2 linked regions of the Homo sapiens genome follow. The protein of the gene in region 2 interacts with the protein of the main gene of each other region in a biochemical or structural test. Each region holds a gene or a part of one and is shown on either strand. Other genes may lie near its edges. The genes, in order: HCK and ELMO1.

The links.
Region 1: the proteins of ELMO1 (region 2) and HCK form a complex in vitro, tested with the Homo sapiens proteins (one study listed by BioGRID).

The regions. Positions count from the first base shown.
Region 1 is NC_000020.11:32,083,129-32,090,402, reverse strand, and holds part of HCK (tyrosine-protein kinase HCK), read right to left. Parts: intron 6,510-7,274; coding exon 6,360-6,509; intron 6,013-6,359; coding exon 5,860-6,012; intron 3,776-5,859; coding exon 3,596-3,775; intron 1,836-3,595; coding exon 1,759-1,835; intron 1-1,758. UniProt on the Homo sapiens protein: Non-receptor tyrosine-protein kinase found in hematopoietic cells that transmits signals from cell surface receptors and plays an important role in the regulation of innate immune responses, including neutrophil, monocyte, macrophage and mast cell functions, phagocytosis, cell survival and proliferation, cell adhesion and migration.
Region 2 is NC_000007.14:37,438,591-37,445,864, forward strand, and holds part of ELMO1 (engulfment and cell motility protein 1), read right to left. Parts: intron 1-7,274. UniProt on the Homo sapiens protein: Involved in cytoskeletal rearrangements required for phagocytosis of apoptotic cells and cell motility. Acts in association with DOCK1 and CRK. Was initially proposed to be required in complex with DOCK1 to activate Rac Rho small GTPases.

The sequences.
Region 1 (7,274 bases), on a different chromosome or scaffold from region 2:
CACCTGCTGCTCCAAGCTGCCTCTCTGAGTCTGGAGGTGAAGACCAAAGCCCCAGGTGGGCTCCTTTCTGTCCCTGGGCTCTGAATCTACCTCTGCTTCTGGACAGATGAAGGCCCAGAACCTCTTTTCCTCCCTTGGTTTGTTTTCCCCTCTGTGAAACGGGCAGAGTGGCTCTTGCCCTGGTCGGTGACTGCTGCCCAGCAGGGCTTCTGCTAGTTTGAAGATGATAATTTAGCAACAGACCAGTCTATTGTCTCCCAGAGGACCTGGCCCATAGGAGTGAAAACACATTTCCATATGCCTCTGGCATTCCAGGCTCTGAAAGTAGAGTCTTTTGTTACACTTTGTGGTGTCCTCTGGGCCCCTGAATTTGCATACTCAAATGAGCCCTGCCCTTGGCATCTCCAGCAGGCCCAGCTGAGGCCCAGGCAGGGTCTCACTCAACTCCCACTATCCCTGGGCTCCTGCTGAGTAGGCTGAACTCCTTCACCTACTTTTGCACAGGCTGTTTCTTTTGTCTAAAAGACCTTTACCTTTTCTCTTCATCTACTGAACTTCTATTCATCCTTCAGGCTCGGCCTAGAGGCCACTTCCTCCAGGAAGCATTCTCTGATTGCTCCTGGACCAGGCTAAATGCTCTAGCTATGCACTCTAATACCACCCCGTCCTTACACTCTGTTTTCCCAGACATCAGAGAGAGCATGAGAGAGGACAGAAGTGAAAAAACTGCTTAGGCTGGGGGTGAGAGGAGCTGCAAGGGGCGTGGGGAACATGAGAAAGAAAATTAGGTTTTCAGCAGTGTTTTTGCGATTTGTGAACATTATTTACTTTGTTAGATACTGTGCTCTTTTGACTCAGCCAGGACCACTTGGGTCATGGTCTCTAAGAGATTTGGTTATTTAATACTCATCTTCCCACCTGGATTGTGAACTCTATTAGGACAGGAACATTTTCATTTTGTTCACTGCTATATCCCCCATAATTAGCACAGTAACTTGTGCAAGCCACTTAACCACACTGGGGCTCAGTTTCCACATCTGTACTTTACTTCTGCTCTATGCTTCAATTTCCTATTCTGTAAAATGGGATGATAATTACCTACTCTGTGGCCAGACTGTTACATTGAGGGGGTCCCTGGGATTTGTGTCCTTGGTCAGTCCCCTCCCACACTGATTCTGGGCATGGCTATGTGACTTGGCCAATGGGCCATTAGCAAGCCTGATGCAGGCAGAGGCTTAATGAGAGCCTGCTCATGAAGGCTTGGCCCCTGGTCCAGCTCTGTCTTGGAACCCAGCTGCTGCGCCGTGAAGAAGCTCAGGCTGGGTGATTGGGTGGTGAGGGGCTATGTGGAGAGACCCTGGAGGCTGAGCCATGTCTTGGACATTCTAGCCTGGGCAAGTGCCAACATCTGCACCTCACTTTACCATGACGAGCAGAAGAACCACCCAGCTGAACCCAGGCAACCCACAGGATCATGAGAAATAACAATTGCTGTTGTTTCAAGCTACTAGGACTTGGATGGTTTGTTATACCAAAATAGATAACAAAAATCCCAGCCTATAAAGCTTATAGGATGATTAAATGAATGAGTACATGTATAATAAAATATATGCAAAAAACATAGTTTTATACTGAGCTCTCAATACATTTTACCCATTATTATTACTGCTATCATCATAGTATGTGGTCAGTAAATATTTGGCAAGTAAAAAAATCGAATTCCTGTTTCCCTTCCCCGTTTCCTCGTTAGGCTCTCACCTGGGCTGAGAAGTCAATGAGTTTTGGCAATGGCTGCTTGCTGCCCTCATCACTTTTCAGAAAGTCCAGCAAGCTTCCTATATGGGGGAGAGGGGAGGAACATTTACTACTTTTACTATTTAATGGCAAAAACCACAATTACTTTTGCACCAATCTAGTACTTTAGTGTGTGGTGAAGATTTTTCATAGTAGTAGATTTAAATACGAATATTTGTTTGCAATTCCTAGTGTTTGAGAAAGAGAATTGAGTTTTAGTGAAGTGACTTTTTGATTGCTAGATGGATTCTGTGACTGAGACAGCCCCTGAGCCTGGATGGCTGGGATCATGCCTTCACAGGACTGGCATAATTGCATAGTTAAAATGAAAAAGGCTTGAGGTTTCAAATCGCACTAAATGGGATTGCATGAGATGATTCTGTTTATCAAAAAATGGGCAGAGTGGCTAGGCACGAGGCTCACTCCTGTAATTCCAACACTTTAGGAGACCGAGGTGAGAGGATCACCTGAGGCCAAGAGTTTGAGACCAGCCTGGGCAACATCGCAAGACCCCATCTATAGAAGAAATTTACAAATATATATGTTAGGCCAGGCTCAGTGGTTCATGCCTATAATCCCAAAGCTTTGGGAGGATCAGTTGAACCCAGGAGTTTGAGACCAGCTGGGGCAAGATGGCGAGACCTTGTCTCTAGAAAAAAATTTTAGAAGCTGGGCGCAGTTGCTCACGCCTGTAATTCCAGCATGGTGGGAGGCTGAGGCGGGCGGATCACAAGGTCAGGAGATTGAGACCATCCTGGCTAACACGGTGAAACACCGTCTCTACTAAAAATACAAAAAAATTGGCCAGGCATGGTGGCAGGCACCTGTAGTCCCAGCTACTTGGGAGGCTGAGGCAGGAGAATGGCGTGAACCTGGTAGGTGGAGCTTGCATTGAGCCGAGATTGTGCCACTGCACTCCAGCCTGGGAAACAGAGTGAGACTCTGTCTCAAAAAAAAAAAAAATTTTTTTAGAAATTAGCTGGGTGTGGTAGTGCATGCCTGTAGTGCCAGCTACTGGGGAGACTAAGTCGGGAGGATCCTGGAGCCTGAGAGTTTGAGGCTACAGTGAACTATGATCACGCCACTGCACTCCAGCCTGGGTAGGCAGAGGGCAACCCTGTCTCTAAAAATAAATATGTAAATAAATAAATAAAATTAGCTGAGTGTGGTGGCATGGGCCTGTGGTCCCAGCCACTCGGGGGGCTGGGGTGGGAGGATCACTTGAGCCCAGGAGTTATGATTGCACCTCTGCACTCCAGCCTGAGTAACAGAGCAAGTTCCTGTCCCTAAAAAACAAACAAACAAAAAATGGCAGGGGTTGAAAATGGTTGTGAAACAGTGGCCTAAAAAAATTCCCCAAGAAATCCTGAGTTGTGGCAGGGCGGGGGTGGGGGCAGAACTGCTGCTTTGCCAGCTCCCTCTCCCAGGGCTTTGGCAAGTACAGGGAAGGTGGCTGATGCGGGAGAGTGGCACCCCCACCACCCATGCCACACCCTGGCCTCTAAGGCTCACTGTGAACCATAAGCCCCTTCTCCCATTGCCCAGGAGTATTCTGGCCCCATTCCCTTCTCCTGGTAGCCCCTTGTTCTCCCTTCCCCTTGGTGACCCCTTAACATGATTTCACCCCACTAACCAGGAGGGCTGGATTGTTCCACATTAGATTCTCAATGAGTACTTGTTGGAAGAGCTCCTGGCCAGATTGGGGCCATCTCAAGGGCAAGAACCATGTCCAAGCCACCCTTGGGCCCGCAATTGACCAGTATAGGCCACAGCCTGCACCCCCAGCCCCAGCACGCAGCACCTTTGGCCATGAACTCCGTGATGATGTAGATGGGCTCCTTGGTGACCACCGCATGAAGTTTGACCAGCTTGTCATGCTGCAGAGTTTTCATCACGTTGGCCTCTGCCAGGAAGGCCTCCACCGACATGCTCCCTGGCTTCATCGTCTTCACTGCCACCTTGGTGTGCTTGTTGTAGGTGGCTGGAGGGGGATAGAGAGCAGGGAAGGTGGTCAGAGCCCACTGGTCTCCCGTACCACCCTAGAAGGCCCAGCTGCAGACCCGCCTCCTCCAGAAAGTCTTTCCTGCTCATCTCAACTCTCAGAGAGGGAAGCGAAATCATGGGCTTAGGCCTCAGACAACTGTGGGTTGAAAGGCGGGTTCACCACTTCCCAGCTGTGCACACTAGGGCAAGTGGCTTAACGTCTCTGAGCCGTGGCTTCCTCAGCTTCCTCATCTGTAAAGTGGAAATGGTAAGCTTTGCCTTTGAAGTGCTGTTGCAAGGATTTAAAAATAGCTCTAAGTGGCTCACGCCTGTAATCTCAGCACTTTGGGGGGCCGAGGTGGGCGGATCACAAGGTCAGGAGATCGAGACCATCCTGGCTAACACGGTGAAACCCCGTCTCTACTAAAAATACAAAAAATTAGCCAGGCGCAGTTGTGGGCGCCTGTAGTCCCAGCTACTGGGGAGGCTGAGGCAGGAGAATGGTGTGAACCCAGGAGACGGAGCTTGCAGTGAGCCAAGATTGAGCCACTGCACTCCAGCCTGGGTGACAGAGCGAGACTCTGTCTCAAACAAACAAACAAACAAAAAACCCAAACAAATAAAAATAGCTTTAAAACACTACTCAGGTTATGTCACACACATACACCGCCCACTTTAATCTTAACACTGCTCTTAAATAAATGCCAGACTTACTATGACCCCCAGGCCCTACATGACCCAGCCTCGTCCACCCCTCTAGCCTCATCAGCCACTAAACTCCCCTTGCCTTTTATGTGCCAGTCACCCTGCAGGTCACTCAGTCCCTCAAGCACCCAACTCACCTCCCACCACAGGGATTTGGCACATGCTGTTCCCTCCCCTCACCCCACCCTGCTTCATTTGGTGGGTCTTGTCAATTTTATAATTGCTTGGGTTTCCATTTTGCCTTGGCTTCCAGGAAGCTCCAATCCAGAACCGTGGGCTTCCTGTAGTAGGAGTCTAGCGTCTTATATGATATTTTTGGCTTTCAAATCTCACCACTCAGATCTGTCTTACCTTCCTCTCCATATTTTCTTTTTTGTCAAATTCTTTTTAATTTTATTATTATTTTTTAGACAGAGTCTCACTCTGTCTCCCAGGCTGGAGTGCAGTGGTGCGATCTCGGTTCCCTGCAACTTCCACCTCCTGGGTTCAAACGATTCTCCTGCCTTAGCCTCCCGAGTAGGTGGGATTACAGGCTCCCACCACCACGCCTGGCTAATTGTTGTATTTTTTCGTAGAGACGGGATTTCACTATACTATCCAGGTTTTTCTCGAACTGCTGACCTTGATTGATCCACTTGCCTCGGCCTCCCAAAGTGCTGGGATTACAGGCGTGAGCCACTGTGCCCGGCCTTGCATGCAGCAGAATCGCAATAAATACAGTCGAAATACATGGATTTTAAACTTATTTTATCTGGCTGAGTTGTTTGCATCCCTGTAAGTTGTCTTCGCTCCCATTTGGAACGCTCCCATTTGGAACGTATTAACACAGCAGGCTGCCCCACACTGGGCTGGCACTGCATCTACCCCACAGCCCTGCAAAGCAGGCAGTGTTGTTCTTAAGTTCTTGGGGAAAATCAGCAGGTGTGAGATGTGCCTTTCTGATTTTCCCACAAGACCCTAACAGTGCTGGGCACACAGCAGGTGCTCAGAATAACCTGTTCATCAGTTGCCTGGAAATCTCCAAGCTGCATTTCCCCATTCTTAATTTTCATCATCTGAAAAGGTCTCTGGTTATCTCAATCCCAAACTGTTAGGCAGTCCCCACTCCGTATGAGGGAGGGATTCCTCATCCATGACACCTGCTTCCCAGAAGGAAGTTTTTGACCACTACAGGACTGGTCTCAAAGGCAAATCAGTGTTTGCACAGCAAGACAATTTGGTTTGCTATCAGGGAACTGCTTCTTTATGGCTATTATTTAAATCTCCCCCTCTGCCTTGGGTAGCATTCCCGCTTTGCCATAAGGTGTTCCTGGAAGCAAGTGGCCTCCCTCTCCCCTCCACCCTCTGGCCCTGTGGGCTGTGGCCCTGGGTCCTTACCCATCCAGACTTCCCCAAACTGCCCAGCTCCAAGTTTCTTCTCCAGCTTGAGGGATTCCCGAGGGATCTCCCAGGCATCTTTCTCCCAAGGCTTCTGGGGCTTGGAAGACATGCAGGGCACCGACAGTTTCTGGCAGAGCCCGTCGTTCCCCTCTGGAACAGAGTCCCTGGTCAATTGAGAGCAACAAGCACCGAGCCAGCCAGAGGTTGCTCCTTGGAGGCCGCCCTACCTGGTCCACTGGATCTCTCCAGTGTTCCACCTGGTTGCCACCATCAGAGACATTCCCAAGCAAGCAGAGTGTGACGGGGTGCCACCTCTACATCTTGGCCACCTCACCCTCCTGCTCAACAGTCCTAAGCCTTCAGAAGCATCCAAAGCAACTATCTGTCTAGGGGATGGCCAAGAAGGACACAGCAGGTCTCAGGGGCCACAGTGCATCCGTGACTAGGAGTCTGTGGGCCCATCGTGGTGGGGATGTCACCCCTGGGGTGGGACTCACTCTTGTAGTGGTCCACCAGCTCCTGCAGAGTGCTGAAGGTGCTTCGGGGGGATATGTAGAAGCCCCCGTTGTCCAGGGTCCGGATCTTGTAATGTTTCACGGTATCTCCCTGCCGAGGGTCGTAGTCTCGCACGGACAAAGAGTAGCTTCCTGAATTGACCAAAGAGAAACCCCTCAGAATGGCATCTTGGAGGCCTGCCACCTTGCATTAGCACTCTGACACCCTGTAAGGCTACCGCTGGCACCGTCCTGACACCTGGGCAGAAGTGCCCGAGGGTCTGAGTGGGCTGTGGGAGCCAGGCATCCTGGGCTCTCATCCAGGCTCTACCACATCCACCCGTGAGACCTTGGCCATGTGACTATGTCACCTCTCTATGCCTCAGTTTTCTCATCTGTAAAATGGGAATAGTTCTCACGCCTCCCTACCTGATCCTATTGCCTGACGGCTAAAAGAAGTAATGCCTGTAAACTACTTGGAAGCTGAACACTCTGCAAATGTTGGCTATCATCATCATCATCTTCATTATTTCTGATCTATTGTTCCATCTTTCTATCATCTACCCTACAAAAAGCCAAGAGACCATAGTATACTTTTTACTTTTTCATAAAAACTCAGGCTATGACTTTTCTGGAAAAAAACCCAGAAATCCAGTCCAGTTATTGAAATGTGAACATGCTGTGGTAGGCTGAATAGTGGTCCCTCAAGATAGTCATGCCCTAAACCCTGGAACCTGGGAATATGTTACCTTACATGGTAAAAGGTACTTTAGAGATGTGATTAAGTTAAGGATCTGGAGACGGGGAGATTATTCCAGATGATCCAGGTAGCCCCAGTGTAATCCCTTGAGTTCTTGTTAGAAGGAGGTAGGAAGGTCAAAGTGGAAGAGGTGAAGATGGAAACAAGAGCTTGGACAG
Region 2 (7,274 bases):
CTCTGTCTCAAAAAAAAAAACACTACTGAATCAGTGATAATAACCTCAATAATAATAGCAAATCCAACCCAACGCTTTTAGGGTACTCTACTTTACAATCATGATTGCATTTAATCATCTCAGCTACTCGAAGAGGTGGGGACTTATATTACCTACACTTGAAAGATGTGAAAACTGAGGCTAAGGAAGATCACTAACTTACCTGAAGTCACCCATCTGCTGTACTCAACAGGAGATCTGAACCCTCCATTAACAAGTATGTGCTTATGGCGCTTTAAACCTCAAAGACTCCTTCTCCTTTTTCCCAAATCCAATCACTTAGCAAATCATTTAATTTTGTCATCAATATCTACAGGCAAACACGGTGAGTGCTGGCCTCCCCTCCTTTACCTCTGCTCAGACTCTGGCTGGCACCCGCTGGAAGGCGGGGGCTGGACAACCTGTCTCCTAGTTGCATTGGCACAGCAAGCACACTGCTTTGTTTATTTATTCATCTGACCAAGACCATGTATTTATTTGAGCAGGCCTAGCAGGAGCTCCCATCTTTCCTCTGCCCCTCCCTCCAGCTGTACCATCTAATCTATCCTCCAGGTTGCTCTCACTGGAATGCACTGCATCTTTTCCTTGCCTAAAAGCCTTTGGCTTTCCTTTCTGCTGAATCCAAATGCCCAGCTCCTGGGATTGCTGACATAAAGCCCCTTCCAGACTGTCCTCCATCACCCTGATTGCTATATTCCCTGGATGTATCATATTCTTTCTCTTAATACTCAGCTTTCCAGATCTTTCTCAAAAGTCACCTCATTTGTGAACACCTACCTCTGTGATCTGCAATCACGGTAAACATACCTTTAGCATACTGTTATGACTGTCTCTAAACAGATTTGCCTGTTACAGCCCTCCCTACCCCTTCTCCACATATGGAGTGCCCAGGCTACAGCATACAAATTACAAGCAAAGTGGCTGTTGACTGACTTGAATGACTGAATGAAGCATTATGATCAGGGCTATAAGCCCAGCAATAGTTTAGCTTGAAAATATTTATATACATTTTAAGGATAAGCTCAACATCTGTTTTTAAAATATACTACAATTAATAAATAAAGCTTTACTGTGCTTCTCTCATATAAACCCAAGCAAATGTTTCTCAAAAACCTTCAGTTGGAGAATGGACAGTAATTGAGAAAGTAGTTCTAATGAGTCAAAGTCGCTTCCTGGCAGTGGAGTAAGCCTAGAGATGATGGAAACATATTCATTCCTTGACAAAATGTTTAATTTCATGTGATTTGTGCTGACTTACTATAAAAGTGACAGCACTGGAGAAAACAGGATTTAGCAGCTGATATAATTGTTTCTTTGCTTCTAAAGGCCTTTCATTATTAGAGCTGCATGGGTGTGTGTGTGTGTGTGTGTCTTTCTCTCACACACACATATATGTACAAAGCACTTATTATTTAATATATCAAAGAATCGGTCCCACTCCCCCAAACCAAAATTTCTGAGTAGTGGTCACTTCCCAGAGTGGCCCACAATTGGAATAACTGAGGCACAAGTCCACTATAAAAAAATCTAGGGGCCAGGCACAGTGGCTCATGTCTGTAATCACAACACTTTGGGAGGCCAAGGCAGGCGGATCACAAGGTCAGGAGTTCGAGACCAGCCTGGTCAATATGGTGAAACCTTGTCTCCACTACAAATACAAAAATTAGCCAGGTGTGATGGCAGGCACCTGTAGTCCCAGTTACTGGGGAGGCTGAGGCAGAAGAATCACTTGAACCCAAGAGGCAGAGGTTACAGTGAGCCACGATCGTGCCACTGCACTCCAGCCTGGGCAACAGAGCAAGACTCTAGCTCAAAAAAAAAAAAAAGAAAAGAAAAGAAAAAGAAAGAAAAAACAAAGAGGCTGGGTGTGGTGGCTCACACCTGTAATCCCAGCATTTTGGGAGGCTGAGGCGGGTGGATCACGAGGTCAGGAGTTTGAGACAAGCCTGACCAACATGGTGAAACCCCATCTCTAATAAAAATACAAAAATTAGCCAGGCATGGTGGTGGGCATCTGTAATCTCAGTTACTCAGGAGGCTGAGGCAGGAGAATCGCTTGAACTCGGTTGGCAGAGCTTGCAGTGAGCCAAGATCGCGCCACTACACTCCAGCCTGGGTGACAGAGTGAGACTCCATCTCAAAAAAAAAAAAAAATCTAGGAAACTGTGGGGTGGGGAGAGTTGGAGGGGTGGACGGGAGTCAAATAAAAACCAGCCTTACTGAGTGTTATTGGAATTCACTCCTCACTTGACCAAAAATGAGCAATCTGACCAAACTCCTCCACTAGCTCTACCTCCCAAGCCACATGCTTTCTGAGGGCCAAGGGTAAAGCCAGCTGTGGTTACGCATTTGGGCTAAAGAGACCAAAAACAAAAAAAAAATTATTTTGAAATGGATTACTCTTCAAAATTAAGGGTAATTGTGTGTAGCAGCCTGGAAAATACAGCTCATCCAGCTCTGCCACTGAACCCCACAGCACAAAACTCTGGCGTTCTAAATGCAATTCTGAACTGAAAAAAAAAAAAAGACACAAAGGGCGGAAGGAAGGGTGGAGGGTTGCTATAGGGCTGGTGAACTGTAAGAAGGCGGCTGCCTAGGGGAGTCATAGCTAGTCTATAACCCAGCATATTTCTACGGCACTTAAGCCACTCGATGGTGTTCTGGACTACGACAGCAGCCAAGCAGAGAAGGTAAATAAAAGGCTGACAGATAATTACATAAGAAAGTTAACATGGCAAGATTAGGACAGAAATCTAATATACAAAGTGGGAAAGGACTTCGCATAAAGCAGTACCTTGAAGGCTTCTCCCTGACCTGCTACAATGTCCTGGTCGCACTAATGGAATATCAATAACCATTACTATCCAACTAGTCAAGGTGGATTTGACAAGCAAAGGAGGAGGCACTGAACTCACTTAACTCATTCCCACACAGACATTTCCTTTGTCTTGTGACAAAGGCCTCTGAACAAGCCAAGCTGAGCTTTGCTACCCACCTCCCTCATTTCATTTATCTTATTGCCATTATGTAAAGGTTACAGTTAAGGCAGTAACCAGTGGTCAGAATTCAAAACGTTGTTAAGAAACTGAGACAAAAACTCACTAGTTACAGTGTTTTTCAGCCACAGGTACTAGGAAGAAACATGCATGGAAAGGAAACTTGAAAAACATTTGGATTAGAGAAACAACTGCAGTATAAGAGAGAAGAGAGCTAGAAAGGAAACTTGGAGAGCTGGAGGAAAGAAATGAACATAAAGGGTGAGCCCTCTCATTTATTAATACACCACCTTAGACTCTAAGGAATAACCAGTAAGGAGAAAACTGGGGCACTTATAACTGCTGTTGAAAGTCTAGACTATCTGATAACACACAACTGGTCTCACTAACACAGGAAGACAAAGCAGCAGTTCTCAGCTTGGGGACAGGAAAATTGATAGGACAATCTGCAATACCTGGAGACATCTGGGGTTGTCACAAACGACTAATGTACTGGCATTAGTGAACAGAGGCCAGGGAAGGCAGTAAACATTCGACAGTACACAGGACAGCCCTTACAACAAAGGATTATCCAGCCCGAAATGTCAATAGCACTGAGGCTGACACTGCCTGAAATAATGGGTCAGTAAAATGGCCAACAGCCTACAAGTAGAAAAAGAACCGTACAAGTAGCCTCAGCATCGCCCAAAGGAGAAACCATCACGGTCAAAGGACTCCAGTCTCTGGTTTTCTTAGTTGGTATGAATCTATCAACAAGAGAATTAGCAAAAGTTATGAGGAGCTGGAAAACACTGTCAAGTATATTCCCCTTCCAACTGGTTCCTTCCCAGGTGGTTCCATGCTTTTGCCTTCACCATGACTCATCCACAGAGGAAAAATGTTGGCTAAAGAATAAACGCCCATTCTTCTTGGCAAATACTGTTCTCATTTTTTATTAATAAATTGCATTCTAGCTCATATGCTTCAATATCATGAGGTTGGCTGATGGACATACTGTCCCTGAGAGAAGAATCCATTGACTCTCAAAACTAAGGTCAACTTTAGAATGAGATACCCAAAGAGAGGGATTGACTCTGAAGAACTAGGACTCAGTGGCAGCATTGACATCCCTGGATACCATGGCAACCCAGGGCACATCCATCTGCAGGACATACAGGAGTGAAGAGCCTCTCTGGACACCACTGCAGCATAGCTCCACATGGCATCCTGGCCTCAGAGGCTGGCAAGTCCAGTGAACCAACAAAAGAAGGAACTAACCAGTGCAGACATCATGGTGCAGGAGAAAGAAACAACGCAGTAAAACGAGTCAGAAAAGTTGGGTTTAAGGCTCAGATGCACTCTCTAAGTATGCTTGTGACATTTCATTCCTCCAAGCCACATCTGTAAAATGGGATAACAATACTATTCTGACTGTTCTCCATCATTTCCAAAACAGCATCCCCAGAGGAAGGGTGTGTCAGGCCACAGAGAAAAATGTCGCATTGATCCTATGACTCCACCTCCACTGAGAGAATGCTTTATAGGGCTTACCTGATTTTCATTCCCTCAAACCACCATTCCCTATCCAGAGTACAACCCACTGAACACATCTCAGTCCTTAGTCCAGCAAGTTGTGCCTCTCCAGTGTTTTCTACTGAGGAAAGTTTTGTTTTCTACCTTAACTGTTAGAACTAAAACAGTCAAAACTGTAGCCTCAATTCCTAAAATTGAAGTTCCAATAATAATTCTGTTCAGATTCTGGAAATCAGTGTTTGTGGGGGCCCGGAACACTGAGAATCGTCTCCTTCTATTTATACATGTGACTAATTTCTCGACTCAGCACTATGCCAGTTTGTTACTGTAGTTAATTCTGTTTGATGAGCTAGCATTCCTTCTCCCACACGTATTCCTATCTGATACTTAACTGTTCACCCCACCTTAGGCCAATGACCAAATTCTGCTCGTACCGTACCTGCACTTATATTGTAACAGGTTAGAAAATACAGCACTAAGACACAAGTAGTTAATGTAATCAGGAATCATGATATGGCTTTGCAGGCTTTAGTTCTGGCTAATATAGATAAGTTCCAATTGTTAACACTCAAACAACCCAAATTATCCAGGGAAATAAGCATTGCAACCAGTGTGTGCATTGTACATGCAGGCTGGCTTTGCTGAACCTAAAAATGCTGTGCTGGCATACTGGAAGGCTTTCATGGCCACACACATGGTCCTGGGAGCCACACCCTGTGGAATGACTGGCCTTCATGATCCTTTTATTATGGACAGTGCAGAAGTTCTCAGACTCTTTTTTTAAAGAGATGGGGTCTTTTTCTGTCCCCCAACCTGGAGCACCGTGGTGAGATCACAGCTCACTGCAGCCTCAGACTCCTGGACTCAAGCCATTCTCTTGCCTCAGCCTACCAAGTAGCTGGGACTACAGGTGCATGCCATCATACCCAGCTAATTTTTTAACTTTTGAGAGATGTGGTCTCGCTATGTTGCCCAGGCTGAGTTGTCAGCCTTTGACTTTCTTCTTTGGATAGCCAATCCAAGCCCAGGTCAGCTAAAATGCTTCACCTAATCATGCATCCCAGCAGTGTGGCTGCCTCCAGAAGAGATTACAACTGTCTTTGTAATTAGAATCATTCATGTGGGGAACACTAGATGTAAAATATGAAAGGAGAAGTTGAGCAGAGTAAATTTCCAAAGACCTCAAAAGTTCTAAACTAAAACTTGGTGAGAAAAGGGGATAGTCTGTCGATTTTATTCTAAGTAAGGTTAAAGAGTTATTGCAAAGGGAGCTACTGCCTTTCTGCATCACTAAAGTGAAAAGCATGTCACTTGAGTTTCTAGTTCCTCCAAGATGGCAGCATGAGGGCCTAGCGCACTGGCAAGTTCTACAAATAGTGGCATTTTTTTTTTTGAGATGGAGTCTTGCTCTGTCGCCCAGGCTGGAGTGCAGTGGCGCAATCTCAGCTCACTGTAAGCTCTGCCTCCCGGGTTCACTCAATTCTCCTACCTCAGCCTCCAGAGCAGCTGGGACTACAGGCACCCACTACCACGCCCGGCTAATTTTTTTTGTATTTTCAATAGAGACGGGGTTTCACCGCCTTAGCCAGGATGGTCTGGATCTCCTGACCTCGCAATCCACCCGCCTCGGACTCCCAAAGTGCTGGGATTAGAGGCGTGAGCCACCGCGCCCGGCCAATAGTAGCATTTTGAAAAGTTAAGTCAATAGCCGACAGAACTGCATCTGGTTCAACATTTGGAAATAGCATCTCCTGCAGGGGGTTAAACCAACAGTATTTTGTTAAAAGGAGATAGCTAAGTATTTCTTGTAGCCCTCTAGAACGTCGTCATCAGAATCCCTGGCAAGTTGGTTAAAAATGTAGTTTTCCCCAGAATTATTGAAACAGGCTTTTTAAAATCGTTACCTACACTGAGCAATACTTTGACATTAAGACTGGGTGTCTGTTTTATGAAATGCTGTTTTCCACACCACTCTTCTCTTTCACATTTTAAACTGCTGGTCTTGGCCTACTAAAGTGATATCATGATCCGCTCATGGGTTACAGCCGTAAGCTTAAAAAGCACTTCTCTGGTTGACTAGAAGGAACCAGAACTAAAGTTGCACAATTAGTAGCAAACACTCCAGGCTTTGTGATGCAGAGAGGGTTTCTTAATCCACCACGTTTTCCAGATTCAACAGAATGTCTTATAAACCAAACTATCTACTTGGATGGTTTCAGGCACCAAAAAGTGGTTACAAGCTTGAGTTACAAACCTTAATTGTATCCACTGTCTTAGATCTGGAAGGGAAATGTTACCTCCATAGGAATGATCACCTTTAACCCTTGAGCATTAGGCAACCTGATGAAGTAAGCACAGTGTGTGATCAGGTGAGCTCCTTGCCTCACCCCCAGCCACATCCTTCAGCAAAGGCTTCAAAGCCCTTTCCCCACCCGCCCCACCCACTCACACCAAACACCCAAAGGGGTTAAATTACTTTGAAACACTCAAGAGTTAGCTTCTTTTCAATATAGTAATTTAGTAAATGTTCAAGACTTAGCTGCACCTGCAGAACACCTTAATGTTTTCTCACTTTTATTTTTCTTCTCCTAGGCATTTCTCATCTCCCCTGCATCTGCCACACAGCCTCCCTTACAGCCTCCTGTCTTCACTTCCATATTGTAGGAGAGCAGAATGGGACACAGTAGATGCCTCTGACTTCAATCCCCTTACAATCATGCCCTTCCT